Linked DNA regions of Homo sapiens. The protein of the gene in region 2 purifies or fractionates together with the protein of the main gene of each other region. This does not show direct contact. Each region holds a gene or a part of one and is shown on either strand. Other genes may lie near its edges. The genes, in order: TRIM40 and PRKD2.

Region 1 (9,797 bases), on a different chromosome or scaffold from region 2:
CATAAAGGCAGGGACACCTCACCTTTCCACCTCACTCTCTGAATATCTACAGATGCCATGTGACCAAGAGGAATAGAAAGGTAGACTGTCAGAGACAGAAATGGAGGCCTATGGCGGCCGGGCACGGTGGCTCACACCTGTAATCCCAGCACTTTGGGAGGCCAAGGCGGGCGGATCACGAGGTCAGGAGATCGAGACCATCCTGGCTAACATGGTGAAACCCCATCTCTACTAAAATATAGAAAAAATTAGCTGGGCGTGGTGGCAAGTGCCTGTAGTCCCAGTACTCGGGAGGCTGAGGCAGGAGAATGGCGTGAACCCGGGAGGCGGAGCTTGCAGTGAGCGGAGTTCGTGCCACTGCACTCCAGCCTGGGCGACAGAGCAAGGCTCCATCTCAAAAAAAAAATAAAATAAAATAAAAAGAAACAGAGGCCTATGGCTTGTGTAGTAATTTTCAGTTGACGAGACACTGGTCTCCTTTGATCCCTACTGTGATCCAGGCAGAGCAGGACTGGTTCTCATTTAACATGTAAGTCACATAAAGATCAGAGGGCTTAACTTGCGTAGGTCACTCAACCAGCAAACTTTGACGCCAAGGCCAACACCCGGGTTTTCAGCCTCCACGACCATCTGCCCACATCAGGCTGTTCCAGGGACAGACAGATGTCCAGAATAGTTAAGTAAGGGCTCCTGAGAACACTCCAGGGAGTCCTTCCCAGGAACCCGAAAAACCCACCTGCAGAGCCTGCAGTTTCTTCTCCTGCTGAGCCTTGAGCCGCTGAAGTTCTGCAATGTCCTTTCTGAGCTTCCTGCTCCGGCGATTGAGTCGTTCCTAAAGAGACAGACACACCTGCTTGTCAGACTGGGAGTGAGGGGGGCACCCACTGGGAGGAGTCAATGGAACACGGTAGGGGGCCTGATCCCAGAATGCAACTAATGTAAAATTCTGCCTAAAAAGAAATGCTTTTAGAGCATCATGGTTGGAGTAAGGGACTTGAGAGTTTATTTATTGGATAATGATGGGGGGAAATAGTAATGGGTAATTTTTTTACAGTCTTAGAAGTACAGAAAAAATAATAGATAGCAACAGAACCATTTCTACTTGACTTCAGGGTGCTTTCTCTCAACATACAAAAGTTATATGACAGTCTTCTAGCACTTCTTACTATTTTACAGTAACACATGGAGCCAGTCTGGAGGGAATTGCCTTAAAGAGGAAATGGCAACCCTCTGCTACCTCTGCTGCCTGGTCCTCACTGGGATGAGTGACAAGATAGAGCCCTTTACTAGGTGCAAACTCATAGCCCAGGTAGGCAGTGCCTTCTCTCTCAATCTTAAATCAGCATCTGGATGTGTCGCTGTGTCCTTGAAGCTATGGAGTTAAAGAATGATTTGAGTTTCTAAAAAAATTTTGCTTTCAGGTTTTTGATGACCTATAAGAGAAGCAAAAATAACAACAAATGCTTTAAATGGCTGCCCATGGTTCGGGGGGCAGTTGGAGGGTGAATGATAAAATAGAAAACAAAACGAGAAGAGATTTGTGAACTAAAGATCAGGATGTGCTATTAGCTGAAAAGTGTGTGTTTCACTAAATCTTTCCCACTTCAGATTTTTTTTTTTTAATCTTTTTTGAGGAGATTTTGGAGATGTACAGGTAGAAGTCAGGGGATGGTGAAGACAACTGAAAGTTCTTTCCAGCCTGAGAATTTCCTGGTGAAATCAAGGTCAAAGGACTGTGTGTGTGAGGGGTCAGCAAGGGCATTTGGTGAACAGAAAGCTGCAGTAAGCAGAGAAGACAGTGATGTCACCACAAAGTTACTAAAAACGTGTCACGTCACTGGGTGTTTCCTGCAGGCATTTCCCAGCAGAGACGAAATAAAAAAGTCATAGGAGTGGGAAGTAATAAATGGGCATCATGGATGTCGCTCATGAGTCTCGCTGAAGAAGGTGGCAGGCTGGTGTGGAACTGTTTGTGCGAGCACAAGAGTTCATGTCCTGAAAAGCACAAACAGCCTTCACCGCTTGCATCTACTCACTTGCTGCCCTCACAGTCAAGTTGTTTGGTGTTGCTGTCTTCACCTCCTCACTGTCGTCATTCCTCAGCCAGCCGCCTTGTTTCTCATCACTCCTTTAAAGCCTCTCTCTCCAAAGTCACCTGAGATCTCCAGCCATGAAATCCGCAGGTGCCTTTCTGTACCTCCTCTCCACCCCATCCTTCCTAGACCTGTGCCTTCTGCCACTGCTTCTTTGCCTCTTCATTTTTTTCTGTAAAAAGGAGCCTTGAAGTTGGCTCCTCAACCCTTTTCTATCTCAGACTATGTCCTTAGCTTTCCTTTCTGGAGCCTTCAGATCTTAGAATTCCAAAACCAAATCTTTTTTCCTAGCAATCCATCTCATGCTTCCAAGTGAGAGCTAAGTGCTGCCTACTGCCCTGTTGGCAGCTCAAAATCAATATGGTAGAATCAAACATGCTGCCCAGTTCCCCAAGCTCTTCTGCAGTCCACTCCTCTTGACCTTCATGTTTCTGACATTGGGACTGCCATTCTGCCTGCCATTCAGCTTGAAATCTGTCACATTTCACCTTTGTTGATGTTAGTCCTCCCTTCAAAATGGCTTCTCAGCAACAAAGATAAGCCCAAACTCCTTCACCCAGCATCCAAGGTGCCCCAGGACCCAGCCCCAACTGACATTGTCCGGGATTCTCTCTCTGCTCACTGAACTCTCTTCACCAGCACACAACATTGCTCTCTGCTTCCCAAACACACCCGTGCAGCCACACCTCCTCATGGCCTTTTACTTCTCTCTGTCAGGAGTGCTTTATTTTTCTGCCTGTCAAAGTCAGGCCTATTAAGGTCCAGTTCAAAAAGCCACAGTCCTATCATCTGGCAGTTTAAAATTTAATAAAGCCAACTACAGACACTGTGTAAATGAAAAAAAGAAGGCAAAGATAACAGTAATAAAGATAAAGGCATAGAATGACTGAAGATAATACTGTCATATTGTTTACAATATTCAAAATGAGTAAGGTAAAGTCCTCTGTTTCTAAAAAGTACTTTTTCACCAATTTTTGCATAAAGGTATTTAATGGGTGCATATAATATAAATAAGACACTCATTAGAATTGAAAAGCTAAATTCTATACACTTTCACCTACCAAAATATTCCTCAGAGAAAAAAAGACAAGTTGAAATCTAGAAAATAGTCGAAGACCTGTCTTGTCTAAATGAATATTTTAAAATTCTGTCATTCAGGTTAAATCATATTAAATTTTTAAAATCTGACAAAAAAGGGCATTAAATTTGTTCTTAAACAACTTGCTAACACAATGTACAAAAGAAAAGTGGTTAACAGACAAAAAGTACCTATCCCTGACACTGAAAAAAAAAAAAAAAAAGAAAAATTAACAGCTTTCAAAATGCATGCTCCTTACAGAACTGTGTCCAAAAATATGAATTAAAAACAACATCACTCACACAATTATGATCTAGAAAATGTCAGAAAATTTTTAAAAATGTATGGTAAATACATGAGCTCAGCAAAGAATCTCATTTGAATCTACAAGTAAAAATTGTCAAAAAAAATAGTGTTGTAAAATACATAGCTACCCTCAATAGAGTCAGGGCACATGAGGTTTAAGTAAAGACAATTTAATATCTGATTCAGATACATAGTGGAAAGCCGTTAGTGATGTATCTTGGTACTGGTTGAGAAGACTAACTAAACCCCCAAAAGTCATGATTCTTAGTAATCAACAAATTTAATGCAATAACCATTAAAATCTTATGGAATGATCTATGAAATTTAGAAACATTGTAAAAAAGCACTCATCTTAAAAGACAGCAAAAATATCAGGTAATAAAATTATTAAATGGCAAAAATGCTGCTAGATTTAAAAATAAACCATAAAGTAACATGTTGTCAAAACTATATAACAGAAAGAATAATCAATGGACTAGAGTAAAAAAAAAACAGCCCATCATGAGAACTTAATTGATGTCAAGCGAGAAACAACACGTAAATGTGGAAAGGACTCACTGTTATATAAATATTTTGGGAACAACTGGATACCAGAATAAAGGAAAATTAACGTGGAGTCATCCTTCACACAACATACTATATGAAATTCCAAGTAAGCCAGGAATTAATAAACCTTTAAAAATAAAACAGAGCAGCACACTCATATTAAACAAATTTCTGTGTATTTAAGACATGGAGATTATATTATAAAAAAGAATAGAGCCAATTTAAATGCAAATTTCTAAAAAGTTGCCCAAAAATATAATTAAGAAGAAATAACAGAATAAAAAAATGTAGGTTAAACAAACACAACTAATGGAGCTCATTATCCAAAAGATAAACTATTTTGATGCAATCATGTAGAATTTATGCCCTGATTCTAGGGGAAAATGCAGACAGCGAGTCTTCATGGATAAAAGCCTCACCACTACTAGCATTCATAATCAAGCAAAGTAAAACAACGTACATCACTGTCACACACTTACTAAACCAGCAAAATACATTAAAGTGATTGACACTGACATTGACTGGTCAGTGAGGAAACAGGTATACAAATAAGAATTTGTAGATTTTATAAATTTTTCGGTCTTTTTAGAGTACAGTCAGGGATTATATGATTCTTTTAAAAGAACAAAATTTACAATACTTAACTACAAAGTTTAATTCAAATAAATAGAGATATGGTGAAAAAATCAGTAAAAAAAAACCCTCCTTAATTTCAAAATTACGCTGTCAATATCCATGAGTACACATAAGGTCCACCATTATAATCACTTCTTCAGAAATATACTCAACTCCCTTACCCTCCCTCTCTGTGTTACTTTTCAGACAACTCCTTATCCATGGTAAAATGTACCATCACCTTCTTGTTTGCTGTCTGTCCTCAGGCAGCCTCCTGAAACATGTTAAACATTTCAGACCTCAAATTGGTGCTACATACTGTCTGCCAACCCTACATAGTTTCTCTTGTAAGCGCTCTCCCACACTGCATCACACCATCTTGTTTCTTTTCAAACCTTTCACATCCATCCTGATCCCACCCATACTGCTGATGTTCCTTCCTCAAATATTATGAGAAAATAAAAACCAGAACAAAACCTGGATTTCCAAAACTGCAAAACTATGTAGGCTTGCAGACACCTTCTCTTGTTCCCTGTTATTACTATGGAAGAAGTGTGCCTCCTCCCAACTCAGCTCTCATGCCTCTGCCACCATCTTACTGAAGTGTTAGCATTGTTCAATGCAATCTATTATAATCTCTTAAAATACCCTTCTCTCTTAGCAGCTGGGGCACCATTCCCCTTGTTTTTCTCCTGCCTTTCTGGCAACTCATCCTGTCTCCTTTGCTGGGTCCTCCTCTGCCTACATCTAAATGACGGCCTTTCCCAGAACCTTACCCCAAAACTTCTTTTTCTGTCTAGCCTCTTTTGAGGCAATTACATCAGTTTCCTTGGTTTCTTGGTTGTTTGTTTCTTTGTTTGAGACAGGGTCTTGCTCTGTCTTCCTGGCTGCAGTGCAGTGGCACAATCACAGCTCACTCCAGCCTCACTCTCTTGGGCTCAAGCAATCCTCCCACCTCAACCTTCCAAGTAGCTGGGACCACAGGCGTGAGCCACTGCACCCAGCCCCAAATTGTCACGTTCTTTTTTTTAAATCCTGTTAATTTCACTTTGTTGTTGCTGTTGTTGTTCTAGAGATAGTATCTCACTGTGTTGCCTAAGCTGGTCTTGAACTCCTGGGCTCAAGCGATCCTCCCACTTTGGCCTCCCAAAGTGCTGGGACTACAGGTGTGAGCCACCGTGCCCGCTTTTCTTGGATTTAAATATTGTCTTTGCCTGGATGGATCTTTGTTCTAGGTTCTAGGAATAAGACTCTGGAGATCTAAATTTGTGATCCAGCTGCGTATGTAAGATCCTATTTTGATGTGTCTCAACTTGGACTCAACTTGTCTTAAATGAAACTCTTGGTGTTGCATTCAAACCTGTTCTACCAAGTTATTATCTTTCACATCATCTATTCAGTTTCTCAAACCAGAAACTCATGAAGTCATCTTTGACCTTCCTCCTTCCTTCAACCCACTTTTTAAAATATATATACTTTAAGTTCTGGGGCACATGGACAGAACATGCAGGTTTGTTACATAGGTATACACGTGCCATGGTGGTTTGCTGCACCCATCAAACCGTCATCCACGTTAGGTATTTCTCCTAATGCTATCCCTCCCCTACCCCCCATCCCCTCACAGGCCCTGGTGTGTGATATTCCCCTCCCTGTGTCCACGTGTTCTCATTGTTCAACTCTCACTTACGAGTGAGAACATGTGGTGTTTGGTTTTCTGATCTTGTGTTAGTTTGCTGAGAATGATGGTTTCCATCTTCATCCACGTCCCTGTAAAGGACGTGAACTCATCTGTTTTTATGGCTGCATAGTATTCCATGGTGTATATGTGCCATATTTTCTTTATCCAGTCTATCGTTGATGGGCATTTGGGTTGGTTCCAAGTCTTTGCTATTGTGAACCATGCCACAATAAACATACGTGTGCATGTGTCTTTATAGTAGAATGATTTATAATCCTTTGGGTATATACCCAGTAATGGGATTGCTGGGTCAAATGGTATTTCTGGTTTTAGATCCTTGAGGAATCACCACACTGTCTTCCACAATGGTTGAACTAATTTACACTCCCACCAACAGTGTAAAAGCGTTCCTATTTCTCCACTTCGTCTCCAGAATCTGTTGTTTACTGACTTTTTAATGATTGCCATTCTAACTGGCAGAGATGGTATCTCATTGTGGTTTTGATTTGCATTTCTCTAAAGACCAGTGATGATGAGCATTTTTTCATATGTCTGTTGGTTGCATAAATGTCTTCTTTTGAGAAGCGTCTGTTCATATCCTTTGCCCACTTTTTGATGGGGTTGTTTTTTTCTTACAAAGAACCCACTTCTAATCTCTCAGTAAGTCCTGTCGATTCAAACTCTAATGATAAATTCTTCAAATATAACAAGACTTCTCAGGTGTGGGCATCTGTATGCACTCCCTACCCCCTGTCTTTGCAGGTTGATTTCTCTTCTGCCAGCCCTCAGCTTCAAGGTCACTTCCTCTATGAGGCCCTCACTGACCAAATGGACATGGGCCACCCATTACTGTTCATCCCAGACCCTTGTTTATTTTCTTCCTAACTAATAAAAAGTTACAGTTCTTTTGGGAGGCCAGCGCAGATGGATCATGAGGTCAGGAGTTCAAGACCAGCCTGGCCAAGATGGTGAAACCCTGTTTCTACTAAAAATACAAAAATTAGCTAGGCCTGGTGGTGGGTGCCTGTAATCCCAGCTACTCGGGAGGCTGAGGCAAAGAATTGCTTGAACCTGGGAGACGGAGGTTGCAGTGAGCCGAGATCATGCCACTGCTCTCCAGCTTGGGTGACAGAATGAGACTCCATCTCAAAAAAAAAAAAAAAAAAAAAAGAAAAAAAAGTTACAGTTCTTTGATTACTTATTTGTGTCTCCCTTACTACACTGCAAACTCCTGGCAGAAGGAATGGCATCTGTCTTCATTGATTCCTAGCACATGCTGCAGTTTCTCACACACAGCAGGAACTTACTAAGTTTTTACTTAATGAACAAGTGTCATCGTTATTTATTTGTTTTAGCTTTCTTGTCATTATTTAAAGACAGATTTGAAACAAGAATTATGAATCATCTTTGTACTTTCTACAATGCCTAGCATGACATCTAACACAAAGGACAGACCTGAAAAAATCATTTAGTGAGGAAATAAATTTCTCCATCTTATGCTGCTTCATCGGCAGGTGAGGAATCCCTCCCCACTCTCCTGTGGACATTGCACCTGGAGGGAATGATGTTAGAACCAAATAGAACTTTGCCTCTGGCTTTTTCAATTATTTCTCTACCTTTCTGTAGTCACTTTTAATCTGGACTCCCCACTTTCTCATTCTGTATCATAACATGTTCTCCAAAAGTCAAGTATCTCAAAGCTACCTCAGCTTTGGAAGTTCAGCCTTCACTATTGGATAGAAGGATGCCATGTGAAAATATTGTCAATTGTCCAGTCAAATACTAACTGGATTAGGGTCAGGGGAAAGGTTGATAAAAATAATTCCAAAGCTAATTGGCAAAATAAAGATATACAAATATCTGCACGAATTCTGAAAAATAAGAGTATTGTGAGGATTCTATCAAAATACCTGACATTAAAATATATGGTAAGGATAAAATCTCTAAAATACCTTGGCTTATAGGCAAGCATAGACAGAATAGAACAGCACAAAGAATCAAGGCAGTATGCAAGAAAATATGCATATATGGTATATTATGACATTGGCATTCAAATCAATGGGGAAACTATATGAATCATTCAACAAATGGTGATAGGACAAATTGATTATAACTTGGAAAAACTAAAGTTAGATTTCTACCTTATGCTCTCACCAAAATATATCTTGGATATTCTAGGTCCTCCAATATATATGTTGAAGGATATTCATTAGAACGTTCTGTGTAATCTTAAAACAAAACAATAGCTTGGAAATGACCCAATGTCTGCCAATTTATGGTACATTCATAGAATTTAATACCACACAGTTCTTGAAAATAATTCAGAAGATCTATACATGCTGATGAGAAAATGTTCAAGCCACACTTTTAGATAACAAAAATGAGTTACAGAAAAAAATATAGAGAGAATCCTTTGAGGGTGTGTGTGTGTGTGTGTGTGTGTAAGAGTGCATTCATAAGCACACACATTTTTTGGAAGGATGTACAAAAATCAAACAATGGTTACCTCTGAGGACTATGAATGGAGGGAGAAAGGAAGACAAATTTTTAGTCTTGACTTTATACCTTTCAGTGCTTTCTGAATTTATTACCTACAGCATGTAACTTTTGTGATAGAAAATTTAACAGAATAAGATAAAATAATTGCCATAGCAAAGAAAGGAAAAGGAAAGATAAGACAAATGCAGAAGGAAGAAAAAGAGAGAAAAAATTATGTAGTAACTTTCAGGTTTTAATATATTTGCAGGATAATTACTAGTGTATATAAAACCTGATTACATTTCTAGCCAAGTTTCTAGTACTATCAACCAGGAGTTCACACAGTTTTAGTCCTGAAAGGGTTTTGCATTAGTTAGTCCAATTACTCTATTCTACAGATGAGCAGACTGGGACTCTAACATCACACTGACAATATCCTCTTTTAGACAGACTCACATTAATGCATGGAAACATCAGCCTCAAAATATACACAGAAAAGCAAGACAAGGGTCCAAAACAGGATGAAGCAGAAGAAACAAAGAGAGATGTCCATTGTTGAGCTACTCTGAGGTGCCAGGCATGATGAACATGTAGGATGCAGCACCTCAGCGAGGTGGAGGCAGGGCCTGGCTGCGGTGACCCAGGCTTACCTTGTAGTGGCTGAGGGCATTTTCAATGGTCAGTTCATGATGAGACATGTGTTCAGGGGACACCAGGCATTCCACACATAGAAGAAGTCTGCTCTCCTCACAGAACCTGCACACCCTCTTCTGGTGGTTGGGGCAGATATAGCCTGTCCCTAGCACCTCCTCAGAACAGGGCTTCCGGCAGAGGGGGCAGCAGAAGACCCCAGAGGCTGAGGCCTTCTCCACATGCTGTGTCAGGCACACTCGACAGAAGAGATGTCCGCAGTTGGTGCTCACGGCCTCCTTCAGGCTCTCCTGGCAGATGGGGCAGACACCCTCCTCCTGGTTGTCCTTCTGCAAAGGGATCATGGCCTCGT
Region 2 (16,516 bases):
CACTGTGTGATGGTCTCAGTCAGTCTCCTCCCTGTCTCCACTCTTTCCCTCTATTTATTTCACTCTCTTGTTTGGTTCTACCCTGCACCCTCGGTCCCCTTCCAGGTTCCTGTTTATAAGCCCCAACCCCTCTGTCCCCATCTTGTATGTGAAAACTTGTCTCAATAAACCCTTTGGAGTAAGATGGGTGACGGTGCCATCTGTTGAGGGCACTGGGGACTTTGGGGGAGGAGTGACCGGCTCTGCCTGGGTTGGGTGGAGTTTGGAGAGAGGGGATATGATGGGTTGGGGTTTTGTGGTAGGGCAGCAGGGGCCGGAGACGGGCCCAGAGCTTGGGTGGGGTGTGGGTGGAGAGAAGTGGAGGCACTGGACCGAATCTCCTTGTGCCCTTTCTGTCCCTAAGTGCTCCCTCCCCAGGGGTAGAGCCCTGGGGAGCAGATACTATGATGACAGTCCAGCTGAAGCCTCAGCCCCGCCTGGGATGTGTGAGGGTGGTGGCGAGGCCAAAGGGCTGGTGCCCAGAGGACGTAAACCCCCTTCCTGTTCCCATCCCAGGCCCACAAGGAGCAGGGAGGGAAAAGGCTGCACCTGCCAGTGGAGGATGATGGCTTTGGGGCGCAGGCTCCTCCATGCTGGGAGGAGGTGCCGCAGGTGCCCGAGCCCTCGTGGCTCATGTCCTGATGCGTCCCTCCTTTCCCTTCTCAGTGGTCCACGTCTACTGTACTGAGTGCTTTACATGGCATTTCACTGGGTCCACAGCCTTAAAAAGAGGGAGCAGGTGTCCACATGCTCCAGATGAGACGGAGGGGACCGCTGCTCCTGTCTCGAGGAGGCTTCCACCACCTACCAGCCAGGCGTCCTCGGTAATCCTAGCACCTCTGCCACAGGGCACTAATGCCCAGTTCCTGGGTTGTAAAGGGCTGTGCCCCAGTCCCCCAGCAGGCCCCAGTGAACATACGAGAAAGGATGGAGGCCGCTGTCTGGACACTCAGGACATGGCAGCGTTTTGCTGGGACAGTCATCTGCCCTTCAGGAAAAAGGGTGCAGGTGGGCAGGAGGCCCTTAGATGACGCCAAGGGGAGCCTTCGTGGGCTCCACGTGGTGTGCTCCCTGCCCATCCCTCTGGGCTCAATGCAGTTCCCCAGGTGGTGGTTTGGGTTTTCACTCCAGCCTCAGACTTCCTTCCTCAGCCCCAGCCCCCGGATGTGGTGACAGAATCGATACTGTACCGACCTCAGCTACCCCCAACGGCCGTACACCAGGAAGAGGGGCTCTTCTGGCAGCCCCCATCCTCAGCCAGCCCTGCCATTTCCAGTCCTGCCAGCATCCCAGCCAGACAGGTGGCCCTTCTCTTAGAGCTCAAACCTAGGCCTTGACTTGTCAATCAAAGGGGTGGGTGGGGCAGCTTCCCTCAAGCAACTTCACTCTGGGATCTTGGGCAAGACGTTTTGCTTCTCTGAGGCTTCAGCTTATTCTGTGTAAACTAAATGGTAGCCACTATTTGATTATTAGCTGGGGAGGAGAGATCAAGCCTGACCCCTGTAGCGGCTGGAGTTTTACAGCAGGGCCCACCCAGCACCCAGTAGGTCCTCACAGATACTTGCTGGGTGACTGAATGGGTGTGCCCACCCATCAAAGCCTGAGTGCTGGAGGTGGCCACCCCTTTCCGCGTATTATCAGAGACAACCACCTCTTACTGAACTGCTGCGTTTCCAGGCACCAGTATACCATGGCATCGGCTCCCACCATCCCATGTGGGGTCAGTCCTATTACAGTCCCAACAGATGGAGGGACTGAGGCTCACAGAGAAGCCACTCACCCAAAGTCACATGGAGAGAAAGACACGCACACGTACTCCACATCCCCAGGAGACACACTCTGCATCTATGAAGTGGTATGGGTGTGCTGTCCTCCCTCGGGGCAGCCCCACACTATCCTAAGGCGGGGTTGGGGTGGGCGGGGGGATGGACCCTCCCCACCCATCCAGTTAGCGCCATGCACCTTGCCCACCATCGCTGGAGACAGACCTAAGGCGAGCCCCTTCCTACCCATCTGGAGGCCTCGGTCTTTCCATGTGTTAAATGGGCTGGGGCCGGGGGACGCTCTGCAGCACCCCCTTCCCTGGGCTGGGACGCGGCGGGGAGGGCAGGGGTGACGCTCGGAGAACAGAGAGGCCGAACCCAGAGAGCGGGCCGGGACCTGATACCGATTTCCCACCCGTCCCCTGCCATGGGCGCCGGACGCCTGCCGGAGAGGGCTCCCCTCCTTAAAGGGCCAGTGGCCTCCAAGCCCGACGCCTGCGACCGGCGGTGGGTGATAGTGTTTCCCCTCCCTGTCCAGCCGAGGGAAAAGTTAACTTTCCAGGCTTGGCTGTGTTCAGGGAAGGAACTGGTCTCGCCTGCCTGCCCTCCATCCCTCACACCATCCCTTGTCCCGGACCCTGGAGGCGGAGGTCCAGCCCCCAACTCGGAGGCCCCGGGCCCACCCTCCCCTTCCGCCCCCGGCCCCTCGGCAGGCTCCGCCCCTCTCTGACGTCGCCGAGGCCCGCGCCGATTGGTCGACTGCACTGTCGCTCCGGACACTTCCTCCTGGGCCGCCGCCGCCGCCGCCGACTTAAACTTTGGAGGGGGAAAAAGAGCTACTGGCGCCTGGCGACCCTCCCTGCCCCCCACCCAACCCCGCTCCGGCAACGCCCCCTTCCTCACGGCTCCCGACCGAACTTTTCTCCAACTTCTGCGACTCGTGAGATTCCCTTCTACCCACTCCGGCCCTCGGGACCCCTCTGCCCATCCCCTGGCCGGTCGGGTCCCTGCGAACCCCTTTATCTCTGGAATCCACTCGGTCCCCGACTCAGAGACTCCTGCCCTCCACCCCCAAGGTGAATTCCCCCGGGCCGCCTTCTGAGTGGGATCCTCTTCTTGGAGCACTGGATCCTGGGATTCCCTCTGCCCCCTTCTCAATCCCTCCTCTAGGGAAGGGGCCTTTGAATCGCGGGCTCTCCTGATCCCTGTGACCCCGACCTACTAGATTTCCTCTCAGGCTTCTTGGAATCTCAATCGCTGGGACCTCCAACCCACTACTTTTCTCCTTTCTGATCTTCTGGGAGCCCTGGATTCCGGGCCTCTGACCCACTATAGTGCCTTTCTCTCCTTCCCAGGACCCCGCCATCCTCAGGTCCCCTCCGCCTGCCAGATCTTTTCTCGGATCCCCGCTCTCCCACCACCTGCTCACGAGATCCCGCGGATCTAGAACCCAGGGTCCCCCGGGGCCCCCCGGCCGGGTCCCGGGTGGGCTCCAGGCGGCCGGTCCCCGGCCTCCCCCCATGGCCACCGCCCCCTCTTATCCCGCCGGGCTCCCTGGCTCTCCCGGGCCGGGGTCTCCTCCGCCCCCCGGCGGCCTAGAGCTGCAGTCGCCGCCACCGCTACTGCCCCAGATCCCGGCCCCGGGTTCCGGGGTCTCCTTTCACATCCAGATCGGGCTGACCCGCGAGTTCGTGCTGTTGCCCGCCGCCTCCGAGCTGGCTCATGTGAAGCAGCTGGCCTGTTCCATCGTGGACCAGAAGGTGAGGGCGCAGGCTCCCTGGATCCAGCTCGGGGAGAGGTTGAAGGAGGGGGCGCTGGCAGAGGGGTCTGGGGCCTGGTGTGCGGAAGAGGGAGGAAGGAGACCTGAGCTTTGGGTGATGGAGGGATAGGGGGCATTGCCCCCCTCCATTGCCCCTCTCCCCACCATCCCTTTGAGAGAGGACTGGGCAGGGGTGGGGTGCCCCAGAGGCCTCCCCAAATTTCATGTCCCTGCATGTCGTTGTTTTCTGCAGCAAACAGGGAGGAAGGGAGGGGCCAGCCAGGTGTAGAGAGGGGAGGAAGGGGCAGCAGATGTCGGCGGACCTCCACGTCCAGGCCCATCCCGGGCCTCCCATTTGGTGGAAACAGGAGAAATTGAACCCGGGCTGGCCATGGTGATCCGGTGACATGTGTGGGTGCAGGTGCTTGAGTTAGCTGCCAGGGGCAAGTGAGGTCTCGGAGCCCAATTCTGCCCTCCCCTAAGCCTGAGATATGTGTGGAGGGGCAGGCACTCCTACAGACCCTGGGGACTCTATTCCCTTTCCTAGTCACAGTGCTGTTAGCCTACTCTTAATTTTGGACACCAGGGTCCCCAGGGTGGGCAGCTGGGTGTTATGGCAAGAGGAAACCAGGTGGAACTCCACGTCTAAACCGTGAAATGTTAAAAGAATAGTGGGCTTCTGTGTTGGAGTACTGGACTGTAGAAATGTTAGAATATTAGAATCATAACTTGTTGGAATATGCATCCTAGGCAATTAAATTGCCCCCATGTTCGTGTTCAAATATTAGAATTCTAGGTTTGTGAAATAGTAAAACATTAAAATGCTGGAATATTAGATTCCTAGATTGTTGAATCCTAGAAAGTTAAAATGTTAGAATTTTAGAATGCTGGATGGATGAGGTCCTTGAATGCTAAAGAATTCAAAGAGCACAGTCCTAGCTTGTCAGACTCCTAGAATATTAAAATATTAGATTACCGCTTATTTAGGTTATTGAAATCCTAAAATGTATAGTGATACCAGGTAGGAATCTAGAATGTATAATTCTATAATGTGAGCATGTTGGAGTCCCAAAATATCCAAATTCCAGAATCTTTTCAGACTCCTGGAAATGAATCCTTTGGGCATCAGAGAAACGTGGGGAACTGGGCCAGCTCCCCCATTCTACAGACAAGGAAACTGAAGCTTAGAGAAAAACTTCCCAAGGGGTCAGGGCCAAGGCAGTCCTGGTCTTCTGTGGACTCTCTCTTAGCAGTGAGAACTGATAGGGTTTTGCCCACCAAATGCCTCAATCCCGCAGGCCCAGCTCACCACCCCAACTCAGCCCACTTCATGGGAAGCTGGTGGCAGTGGGGGTACGGGGGCAGATTGTCCCTTGGGTGAACTTCTTTGTCCAGTGCTCAAGTCCCCAGCCTGCCCCGCTCAGGCTTCACCCCAGTTTTATTTTTCTGCCAGGTCCAGGTGTGTTAGGGCCGCTTACCTTCCTTCCCGAGGCCCCACCGGGGCAGTTTCACTTTCTGTTCTACTAGGTTTCATTTCCTGCCCCCAGGCCCCCAAAGCTGAGGACCCAGACACCTGGGTCCTTTGAGCATTGGGTGGCAGGCGCCCTCCTTATCTCCAGCGCCCTCGAGTCCAAGTCCCCCGGCCCCCCCCCCCACTTTCCCAGGAGCCCCGAAAAGTCCTCCTTCCAGCTCGCCCCACCCCAGTGCTGGGCCTGGAGCCAGGTAACTGGGACAACAATAGACAGATCCAGGAAGGAAGCTGGGGGGCGGGTGTGTGAGCCTGGGGAGGAGGCACAGGGGAGGGAGTGTTCATTCAGCATCCCCTCCCACCTCCGCCAGGTTCCGGAAAATTCGAGGTGTCCACGCTCCCGGAGCCACTCTCCCTCCCACCCCAGCTCCCCCTTCCAGCCACCAAACCCACGCCGGCGCCCCCTCCCCGTACAATTGGGGCGCTGGCATCCTGCCCGGCTCGCGCTGGGGTTGGGAGGGGGCAGGCAGGAAGCGAGGGCCTGCGGGGTCTCTGCGTTTCCGGGGGAAACAGCCGGCCCTGCCCTGGGAGGGTCACAGTCCGCCCGCTGCTGAAGGCGGCTCTGAGCTTTTCCGTCGCCACATCCCTCTCCCGCCCCTCAGTTCCCTGAGTGTGGCTTCTACGGCCTTTACGACAAGATCCTGCTTTTCAAACATGACCCCACGTCGGCCAACCTCCTGCAGCTGGTGCGCTCGTCCGGAGACATCCAGGAGGGCGACCTGGTGGAGGTGGTGCTGTCGGGTGAGAGGTGGTGGCCGGCCTGGGGGCGGGGCCTCGGGTGGGGGCGGGGCATCTGGGGGAGGAGAGGGTAGGGGGAGTTAGAAGTCAGGAGAGGCCGGGTGTAGTGGCTCACGCCTGTGATCCCAGCACTTTGGGAGGCTGAGCTGGAGCTGGGGGGATCGCTTGAGCCCAGGAGTTCGAGATCAGCCTGGGCAACATAGTGAGATTCCATCTCTACCCCTTTCTCTCCCTCTGAAAAAAAAAAATAAGGAGAGTTGGGGGCTTCTGGAAGATGGTTACAGAGTGGGGTCATGAAGGCGCTCTTTAGGGACTGGTCTAAACTTTCATTTATGGATTAGGATGCTAGTGACACGCTTTGTACAGTTTGAAAATTCATTGAGCTGTGCACTTGTGATGTGCGGCCTTTCCTGAACATATGTTATACTTATTTATTTATAAAACTAGTCAAGTGCAGTAGTTAGAAGGGGGAAAAGAGGAGAAGAAGGAGTTGGATCTGTAACTGACTGTGTTATGCTTAAATATAAAGGTAAAAAATGGGCCAGCTGCAGTGGCTCACACCTGTAATCCCAGCAGTTTGGGAGGCTGAGGTGGGAGGATCGCTGGAGCCCAGGAGTTTGAGACCAGCCTGGGCAACATAAGGAGACCCCATCTCTTAAAAAAAAAAAAAAAAAAAAAAGTTAACCGGGCGAGGTGGCACACGTCTGTAGTCTCAGCTACTTGGGAGGCTGAGGTGGGAGGATTTCTTGAGCTTAGGAGTTTGAGGCTGCAGTGAGCCACGATCATGTCACTGCACTCCAGCCTGGGCAACAGAGAGAGACCCTATCTCTAAAAAAGAAAAAAAGTAGAAAAAGAAAAAAAAAAGTTATGATGTCCATGGCTCCTGCCACGAAAATGCTAAATTAAATCAGAATCTCTGCAAAGTGAGATGGAATCTGCACATCAGTATTTTTAAAAGCCCCCAGGTGATTTTCTAAGACACAGCCAGAAGCCAGTTCATCCACTCACTATTCCAGTAGTATAGATGGGCATGCTCTCAGCACCTTAGAGCAGTCTATGGCCCTTGGTCCCTCTTGAGGGTGGGGGCAGCTGCCTTTTTCATGGCTGCCTTCCCTGCTGCTCCGGCATACTGCAGTGCCCAGTGAAACCGGCTCAATGAATGAATGACAGAAGTCTGGATTTACACCTTTAGTGACCTTGTTCAGGCTTTAAGTACTCTTTCATATCATAAGCTGGCCTCACTTGAATTTTTATCTTCATTGTTGTCTCTCCCCTAAACCTGAGTTTTGTTTTGTTTTTGTCATTTTTATTATTTTTTGTTTTTTTAGACGGAGTCTCGCTCTGTCACCCAGGCTGGAGTGCAGTGGCGCAAACTCAGCTTGCTGCAACCTCTGCCTCCTGGGTTCAAGCGATTCTCCTGCCTCAGCCTCCCGAGTAGCTGGGATTACAGGCGCCTGCTACCACACGTGGCTAATTTTTGTATTTTTAGTAGAGACGGGATTTCACCTTGTTGGCCAGGCTGGTCTCGAACTGCTGATCTTAAGTGATCTGCCCACCTCAGCCTCCCAAAGTGCTGCGATTACAGGTGTGAGCCACCGCTCCCGGCCCTGTTATTTTGTTTTGAGGCAGGGTCTTGTTCTGTCACCCAGGCTGGAATGCAGTGGCATGACCACCACTCACTGCAGCCTCTACCTCCCAGACTGAAGCAATCATCCCGCCTCAGCCTCCTGAGGTGGCTGGACTATAGGCATTACAGGCATGCACCACCACACTGGGCTTTTTTTTTTTTTCTTTTTTTTAGACAGAATCTTACTCTGTCACCCAGGCTGGAGTGCCGTGGCATGATCTTGGCTCACGGCAACCTCTGCCTCCCGGGTTCAAGCAATTCTCCTGCCTCAGCCTCCTGAGTAGCTGGGATTACAGGCACGCGGCACCAGGCCTGGCTAATTTTTGTATTTTTAGTAGAGACGGGGTTTCATCATGTTGGCCAGGCTGGTTTCGAACTTCTGACCTCAAGTGATCCGCCCACCTGGGCCTCCCAAAGTGCTGGGATTACAGATGTGAGCCACCGGGCACCGCCTATCCATGTTCTTTTTTGTTGTTGGTGGTGGTATTTTTAATTAAAAATTTTTTAATTTGGTAAAATATACATAACATAAAAATTACTATTTTAGGCCGGGTGCAGTGGCTCACGCCTGTAATCCCAACACTTTGAGAGACCGAGGCGGGCAGATCACCTGAGGTCGGGAGTTTGAGACCATCCTGGCCAACATGGTGAAACTCCGTCTCTACTAAAAATACAAAAATTAGTCGGGTGTGGTGGCGCATGCCTGTAATCCCAGCTACTCTGGAGGCTGAGGCAGGAGAACTGCTTGAACCCGGGAGGCGGACTTGTGGTGAGCCGAGATCTCACTACTGTACTCCAGCCTGGGTGACAGAGTGAAACTCTCTAACAAACACAAACAAAAAAGCCCACAACATTTTAAGCACTTTTAAGCGTACAGTTCAGTAATTTAAAGTTCACGCACACTGTTGTGCAGCCGGTCTCCAGAACTGTTGTCATCTTGCGAAACTGAAGCTCCTTGCCCGTTAAACAACTCCCCAATTCCCGCTCTGTCCCTGCCCAGGGCGTAGGGATATATGTGTTTTGTTCAGGGGTGGAGCTGGGATTTGAACCCAGGCAGAATGTAGTATGAGAGCAAATGAAGGAAGGAAGGAAAGATCACACCTTGCGGCTGGGAGCACTGTGAGAAATCAGGGAACGTGGGGTCTGGAAAAGCTTTGGCCTACCCCGCCTCAAGCATCCACCCCTATTTTCCGCCTACAGCCTCGGCCACCTTCGAGGACTTCCAGATCCGCCCGCACGCCCTCACGGTGCACTCCTATCGGGCGCCTGCCTTCTGTGATCACTGCGGGGAGATGCTCTTCGGCCTAGTGCGCCAGGGCCTCAAGTGCGATGGTGAGAGCTAAAGGGTTGGGGGCGGGGCCTGGGGCGGGGCTCTGCACCGGGGGCGGAGCGTAATGGTCCTGGCACGGGGACAGCGTGGGGAGGAGGAGCGGGTCTCAGAGCTGGGGGCGCAGCCTAGGAAGTAATAATGGGAAGAAGGATGGGCCCAGAAGCAGAGCTTGGGGAAGGAGTGGTGGGGCTGGGCCGGGGCTCAGGTCTAGGGGCGGAGCCTAGGAGGTGGAGCTGGGAGGGACAAGTAGGGGCTTAAGAACAGAGCCTAGGGGAGCAGAAGGGTGGCGGGGGAAGAGGGTGGGGCCTCTATCAGTTAGGGATCAAGCAGAGAAACATCCAGGAGGAGATATATATTGAGATATTTATATGCAAGGAATCAGCTTACAGAATTGTGTGGGCTGGCTAGGCAACTCAAATCTGGCTGGGCACAGTGGGGGAGGCCAGTAATCCCAGCACTTTGGGAGGCAAAGGTAGGTGGATCACTTGAGGCCAGGAGTTCAAGACCAGCCTGGGCAACATAGCAAGACTCTGCCTGTACAAAAAATAATTAGCCAAGCATGGTGACAGACACTTGTGGTCCCAGCCACTTGGGAGGCTGAGGCGGGAGGATCACTTGAGCCTGGGAGCTCGACACTGTAGTGAGCCCTGATTGCACCACTGCACACCAGCCTGGGTGACAGAGCGAGACCCTGGCTCAAAAACAGGAAAAAGGCCGGACACGGTGGCTCATGCCTGTAATCCCAGCACTTTGGGAGGCCGAGGCGGGTGGATCACGAGGTCAGGAGATTGAGACCCTCCTGGCTAACATGGTGAAACCCCGTCTCTACTAAAAATACAAAAAATTAGCCGGACGTGGTGGCACACGCCTGTAGTCCCAGCTACTTGGGAGGCTGAGGCAGGAGAATTGCTTGGACCTGAGAGGAGGAGGTTGCAGTGAGCCGAGATTGTGCCACTGCACTCCAGCCTGGTGATAGAGTGAGACTCCTTCTGAAAACAGAAACAAAAACAAAACAATAAAAAGAAAAAGAAAAAAAAATCCATCCTATCAGGAAGGGCAAGTGGGAACTCAGGCACAAGCTGAAGCTGATGTCCACAGGTGGAATTTCTTCATCCGAAAAGTCTCTGATCTGCTTTTTAAAACATTCAGCTGATTGAATGAGACCCACCTAGAACAAGCAGGATCACCTCTCCCACTTACAGTCAGCTGATTATGGATTTTCATCACATCCAGAAAATACCTCCACTGGGCCGGGTGCGGTGGCTCACGCCTGTAATCCCAGCACTCTGGGAGGCCGAGGCAGGTGAATCACCTGAGGTCAGGAGTTCGAGACCAGCCTGTCCAACATGGTGAAACCCCGTCTCTACTAAAAATACAAAAAAGCCGGCGTGTTGGTGGACGCCTGTAATTCCAGCTACTCGGGAGGCTCAGTCAGGAGAATCTCTTGAACCCGGGAGGCAGAGCTTGCAGTGAGCTGAGATTGCACCATTACACTCCAGCCTGGGCAACAAGAGCAAAACTCTGTCTCAAAAAAATGAAAAGAAAAGAAAATACCTCCATGGGGCCTTCTCTTCCCAGTTCTTCCTGGAGTCGGGGAAAAGCTGGGTTGAGAAGGTGAAAAGAAAAAACAAACCTTGACTGGGCACAGTGGTTCACACCTGTAACCCCAGCACTTTGGAGGCTGAGGCAGGCGGATCATGAGGTCAAGAGATTGAGACCACCCTGGCCAACATGGTGAAACCCCATCTCTCCTAAAAATACAAAAATTAGCGGGCGTGGTGGCATGTGCCTATAGTCCCAGCTACTTGGGAGGCTGAGGTAGGAGAATCACTTGAACCCAGGAGACAGAGGTTGCAGTGAGCCGAGATCGTGCCACTGCACTCCAGCCTGGCAACAGAGCGAGACTCCGTCTCAAAAAAAAAAAAAAAAAAAAAAACCACAAACAAACCAACCTTCATGGCAACATCTAGATTAGTGTCTGAATAACTGTGGATCTCGCCTAGCCAAGCTGACACATTAACATGACTATCAGGGTCCATCTCTTGTCAACCTGGCACCTGTCTTAGTTTGTCAGGGCTGCCTTAACAAAATACCACCCTGCGTGGCTTAAATGACAGACATTTACTTCTCAAAATCCCTGGAATTGTGAGAGGCTGGAAAGACAAAGATCCAGATTCTGGCAGGGTTCTGTTTCTGGTGTAGCCTGCTTTCCTGCCTTGCAGAGGGCCATCATTTCACTGTGCGCTCACATGGGACACGGAGAGAGAGATCCCTGGTATCTCTTCCCTTTATAAGGAAGGCCAGGCATGGTGGCTCATGCCTATAATCCCAGCACTTTGGGAGGATGGTGGATCGCTTGAGTCCAGGAGTTCGAGACCAGCATGGGCAACATGGTGAAACCCCGTCTCTAAAAAATACAACAAATTGGCCAGGCATGGTGGTGCATACCTCTAGTCCTAGCTACTCAAGAGGCTGAGGTGGGAGGATCACCTGGGCCTGGGAGGTTGAGGCTGCGGTGAGCCGTGATCATGCCACTGCACTCCAGCCTAGGTGACAGAACACGATTGTCTCAGAAAAAAAAAAAAAAAAAAAAAAAAAAAGGTCACCAGTCCCATTGGATTACAGCCACACTCTTTCGGCCTCAATTAACCTTAATTACCTCCATAAAGGCACCGTCTCCAGATATAGTTGCATTGGAGGTTAGGGTTTCAACATAAGAATTTTGGGGGAGACACAGACATTTAGTCCATAACAGCACCCATACATATCTCCTTAAATCATAGTTTAAAAATATACAGGTTTTCTTTTTTGGAGACAGCGTCTCAGTCTGTCACCCAGGCTGGAGTGCAGTGGCGCGATCTCAGCTCACCACAACCTCCACTTCCCAGGCTCAAGCGATTCTCCTGCCTCAGCCTACCGAGTAGCTGGGATTACAGGCACACACCATTACTGCCCGGCTAATTTTTGTATTTCTAGTAGAGACGGGGTTTCACCACGTTGGCCAGGCTGGTCTTGAACTCCTGACCTCAAATGATCCACCCGCCTTGCCCTCCCACAGTGCTGGGATTACAGGCATGAGCCACCGCGCCTGTCCAAAACATACAGTTCTTTAAGCCAAGATGTCTCAAGGTTCAGCCCAAGTGTCAAGATCTATATAGGTCCTCTGTCCCTGTTATTCATGCTTCTGAGTGAGAATGTTGAAATCGGGGCTCTGCCTACAGATGAAGGCCATGTACCTGCATTGGCTATGAGGACAGATGACAGGTGAGGACCATCCATTCTGTGATGAGACCCTGTGGCTCCATTGTTTTGTGTGTGTGAGACAGAGTCTTGCTCCGTCACCCAGGATGGAGTGCAGTGGCGTGGTCTTGGCTCACTGCAACCTCTACCTCCTGGGTTCAAGCAATTCTCCTGCTTCAGCCTCCCAAATAGCTGGGATTACAGGTGCGCACCACCACTCCTGGCTAATTTTTGTATTTTTAGTAGACGGGGTTTCACCATGTTGGCCAGGCTGGTTTCAAGTAATCCACCCTCCTCAGCCTCCCCAAGTGCTGGGATTACAGACATGAGCCACTGCGCTGGGCCCCATGCGCCTCCATTTTTGTATGGTGTGCCCTGCAATTAGAGCCATATTCTTGGATGTTCCATTGGGTATTAGGTCTGAGACAGCATCTCTAGCTCCGTGGGTGCCACGCTTGTACAGAAATCCTGATTCTGGGCCAGGCACGGTGGCTCACACCTGTAATCCCAGCACTTTGGGAGGCCAAGGCGGGCGGATCATGAGGTCAGGAGTTAGAGACCAGCCTGGCCAACATGGTGAAACCCTGTCTCTACTAAAACTAGAAAAATTAGCTGGGTGTGGTGGCGGGTACCTATAATCCCAGCTACTCGGGAGGCTGAGGCAGGAGAATCATTTGAACCTGAGGGGGTGGAGGTTGCAGTGAGCCGAGATCATACCATTGCACTCCAGCCTGGGTGACAGGGTGAGACTCCGTCTCAAAAAAAAAAAAAAAAAAGAAATCCAGTTTCTCCAATATCCTGTGTTCCAGATCATCATGCAGTCCAAAGTATACTTGTATTATTTAAGGACTCTAGGCCTGCAGATACTGATTCAGTGCATTAAAAGCTCTTATAAATATTGCCATCGTCCACACACCATATCCAACTCTTGAGGTCTCAGCATATGCAGTCTTTGTCATGATACAGCCCTGGTGTCATCAAGTCCTAATGGGTTATCAGCACAGACTTCACTGGTGCAGCATCACAGATGATGGTCCCAGTTCCTATGGTGGCAAGAGAACCCCAAATGACTACATTCCGACAGGAGTTTAACTCTATCCTGAGACTCATTCTGAGAGTTATAGATAAGATTCTGAAATTCTGGAAGGCACATGAGTGATTCAAGGCCAACACTGGGAAATGGTTCCTGTGTGCAAAGACCATTTGCCCTGCTGAAGCTCTTCTTGCAGGGCCAACACCGTTCTCCAAGCTTGCCTCCGTGATTACAGCATGCAGCCAAGACAGTGCCTACAATGAGGAGGTGTGGAACTGGAAAGCCTGGAGCAGGCGGGTACCAGAAGGGCTCCCAAAGGCTGGAGGAACATTCTTCACTCCAGAATAGAAAGCGATCCTGGAATCGTTTGGAATCACTGGAGATGTATTAGAGCACACATACAGAACGTCCAGTGGGAAACAGGGAGTTGAGCTGATTTCTCCATGGATGAGGATTTTAAAAGATAAAATAGGCAGGGCACAGTGGCTCATGCCTGTAATCCCAACACTTTGGGAGGCTGAGGTGGGAGGATCACTTGAGCCCAGGAGTTCAAGACCAGCCTGGGCAATGTAGCGAGACCCCATCTCTACAAAAAAATAAAAATAAAAAAATTATCTGGGCATGGTAGTGTATGTCTGTGGTTCTGGCTACTCAGGAGGCTGAGGCAGGAGGATTACTTGAGCCCAGGAGTTGAAGGCTGCAGTGAGCTATGATTGTGCCATTGTGCTTCAGCCGGGGGTACAGGGAGATCCTGTCTCTACAAAATAAAATAAGACAATAAGAAGTCATACTTCTGCCTAGTATGGTACAATGGACCTGAGTACAACTGAGAACTCTTTTTTTTTTTTTGAAACTGAGTCTCGCTGTATTGCCCAGGCTGGAGTGCAGTGGCGTGATCTCAGCTCACTACAACCTCTGCCTCCTGGGTTCAAGTGATTCTCCTGCCTCAGCCTCCGGAGTAGCTGGGATTACAGGCGTGTGCCACTACACCCGGCTAAGTTTTGTATTTTTAGTAGAGATGGGGTTTTGCCATGTTGGCCAGTGTGGTCTCAAACTCCTGACCTCAAGTGATCCGCCGGCCTTGGCCTCCCAAAGTGCTGGGATTACAGGCGTGAGCCACCATGCGTGGCCCACACTACTAAGATTTAATCACACTACTTAGGGATTGCCTGGATTCCAGGTCTACAGAAAAGAGAAAGTGGGGTACAGGGGGTGAGCAGACCTGGAGGGATAGTGACCTTAGGGGTGGGGGTGAGGAGAGGCATTTTCTTTTGGAAAGTTGGGGTTGGGGAAAGAGGGGGAACCAAAGGGGCCTCAGAAAAAGGAAGGTCAGGGTTAGAAGGGGGAACAGGTGTCTCTAGGGAGATGGACAGGAGTTTTGGGGAGGACTAGAAGGAGGTGCTTACCATAGAGGACTGGGGCTGGGTCAGAGCTTTGGCGGGGACTTTTGAGGCATCCATTGTTGCAGTGGGAAAAGGTGGGGTGTGAGGCGCGTTCAGGGCCTGGGGGGCAGATGGGGTGATGTCGGGGCTACAAGCTGGAACTAGGGGTGGAGCTTTGGAGGGAACCTTTGAGGTATCCCTTGTTGGAGTGGGAAAATTTTGGGTGTGAGGCGTGTTCAGGGTCTGGGGGACAGATGGGGTGATGGCAGGGCTACAAGCTGAAACTGGGGACAGAGCTTTGGGGGGAGCCTTTGAGGTGTCCCTTGTTGGAGTGAGAAAAGGGGTGTGGGTGTGTTCAGGGTCTGGGGGACAGATGGGGTGATGGTGGGGCTACAAGCTGGAACTTGGGGCAGAACTCTAAGGAGGGGTGGGCCTGAAGGGGCTGATACACTTACGGATAGTAGTGCCTTTTGGAGGAGATCGTGCTGGCGGGGGGTGATGGGACAGGACCAGGTGAGAGATTGGGTGGAAAGGGCACAACTTCTCAAGAAGAGACCTAGGAGGGGCAGACGCCATGTCTCTTACTCTCTGGCGCCCCCTGCAGGCTGCGGGCTGAACTACCACAAGCGCTGTGCCTTCAGCATCCCCAACAACTGTAGTGGGGCCCGCAAACGGCGCCTGTCATCCACGTCTCTGGCCAGTGGCCACTCGGTGCGCCTCGGCACCTCCGAGTCCCTGCCCTGCACGGCTGAAGAGCTGGTGAGGAGATGGGGGATGGGACGGGTTGGTGGCTAGGGGGGTGACTTGGCCCAGGCATGGGGCCAACGCACTGATGTGTCCCCTCCATTCTTGCCAACGACAGAGCCGTAGCACCACCGAACTCCTGCCTCGCCGTCCCCCGTCATCCTCTTCCTCCTCTTCTGCCTCATCGTATACGGGCCGCCCCATTGAGCTGGACAAGATGCTGCTCTCCAAGGTCAAGGTGCCGCACACCTTCCTCATCCACAGCTATACACGGCCCACCGTTTGCCAGGCTTGCAAGAAACTCCTCAAGGGCCTCTTCCGGCAGGGCCTGCAATGCAAAGGTTAGCTGGGCCTGTCGGGGAGGACAGACAGGGTCAGAACCTCCTTCCCGCCCCAACCTGGTCTTGTGGCAGGACACAAGGATCTGAGCCTTGGGACCCCAGGGCCTCAGAAGGGGAGGGCCCTGAATCCTAGTGTTCTGGGACCTTTGGAATTCTGGAATCTTAGAACCTCAGTTGTGTGTGTGTGTGTGTGTGTGTGTGTGTGTGTGTTGTTGTTGTTTTTTGGAGACAGGGTGTCACTCTATCACCCAGGCTGGAGTGCAGTGGCGCAATCACGGCTCACTGCAGCTTCAACCTCCTGGGTTCAAGTGATCCTCCTGCCTCAGCCTCCCAAGTAGCTAGGACTACAGGTGGTGCCACCACACCCAGCTAATTTTCTTTTCTTTTTTTTTTTTTTGAGACGGAGTCTCACTCTGTCGCCCAGGCTGGAGTGCAGTGGTGTGATCTCGGCTCACTGCAAACTCTGCCTCCTGGGATCAGGACATTCTCCTGCCTCAGCCTCCTGAGTAGCTGGGACTACAGGCGCCCGCCACCATGCCTGGCTAATTTTTTTGTATTTTTAGTAGAGACGGGGTTTCACCATGTTAGCTAGGATGGTCTCGATCTCCTGACCTTGTGATCCACCTGCCTCGACCTCCCAAAATGCCGGGATTACAGGCGTGAGCCACCGCGCCTGGCCACACCCAGCTAATTTTTAAATCATTTGTAGAGAGAAGGTATCACTATATTGTTCAGGCTGGTCTTGAACTCCTGGGCTCAAGCAATCCTCCTACCTCGGCCTCCCAAAGTGCTGGGATTACAGGTGTGAGCCACCGCGCCCAGCTGAACCTCAGTCTTTAGAACCTTGGAATCCTAGATTCATAACGTGCTTAGCATGGAATTCTAAAACTGTAGAACCTGAGAATTCTAGAATCAGAACCATAGCATTCAAGAATTCCGAATGATAGAATTCAGCTAAAATAACAACAGAACTTTAGATTACACATCTTAGA

Evidence for each region.
Region 1: the proteins of PRKD2 (region 2) and TRIM40 purify together in Homo sapiens (affinity purification with mass spectrometry; 2 studies listed by BioGRID). This does not show direct contact.

What each region holds. Positions count from the first base shown.
Region 1 is NC_000006.12:30,137,029-30,146,825, reverse strand, and holds part of TRIM40 (E3 ubiquitin ligase TRIM40), read right to left. Parts: 5' UTR 9,790-9,797; coding exon 9,445-9,789; intron 833-9,444; coding exon 737-832; intron 1-736. UniProt on the Homo sapiens protein: E3 ubiquitin-protein ligase that plays a role in the limitation of the innate immune response. Mediates inhibition of the RLR signaling pathway by ubiquitinating RIGI and IFIH1 receptors, leading to their proteasomal degradation.
Region 2 is NC_000019.10:46,703,177-46,719,692, reverse strand, and holds the start of PRKD2 (serine/threonine-protein kinase D2), read left to right. Parts: upstream 1-2,882; 5' UTR 2,883-3,322; coding exon 3,323-3,562; intron 3,563-3,642; exon of another isoform or gene 3,643-5,283; intron 5,284-5,372; exon of another isoform or gene 5,373-5,691; coding exon 5,692-5,830; intron 5,831-8,654; coding exon 8,655-8,786; intron 8,787-10,338; exon of another isoform or gene 10,339-10,411; intron 10,412-15,043; coding exon 15,044-15,198; intron 15,199-15,301; coding exon 15,302-15,524; intron 15,525-16,516. Other genes in the region: uncharacterized protein LOC107987269, read left to right, coding at 630-1,047, 1,191-1,340, 1,717-1,894, 2,516-2,882.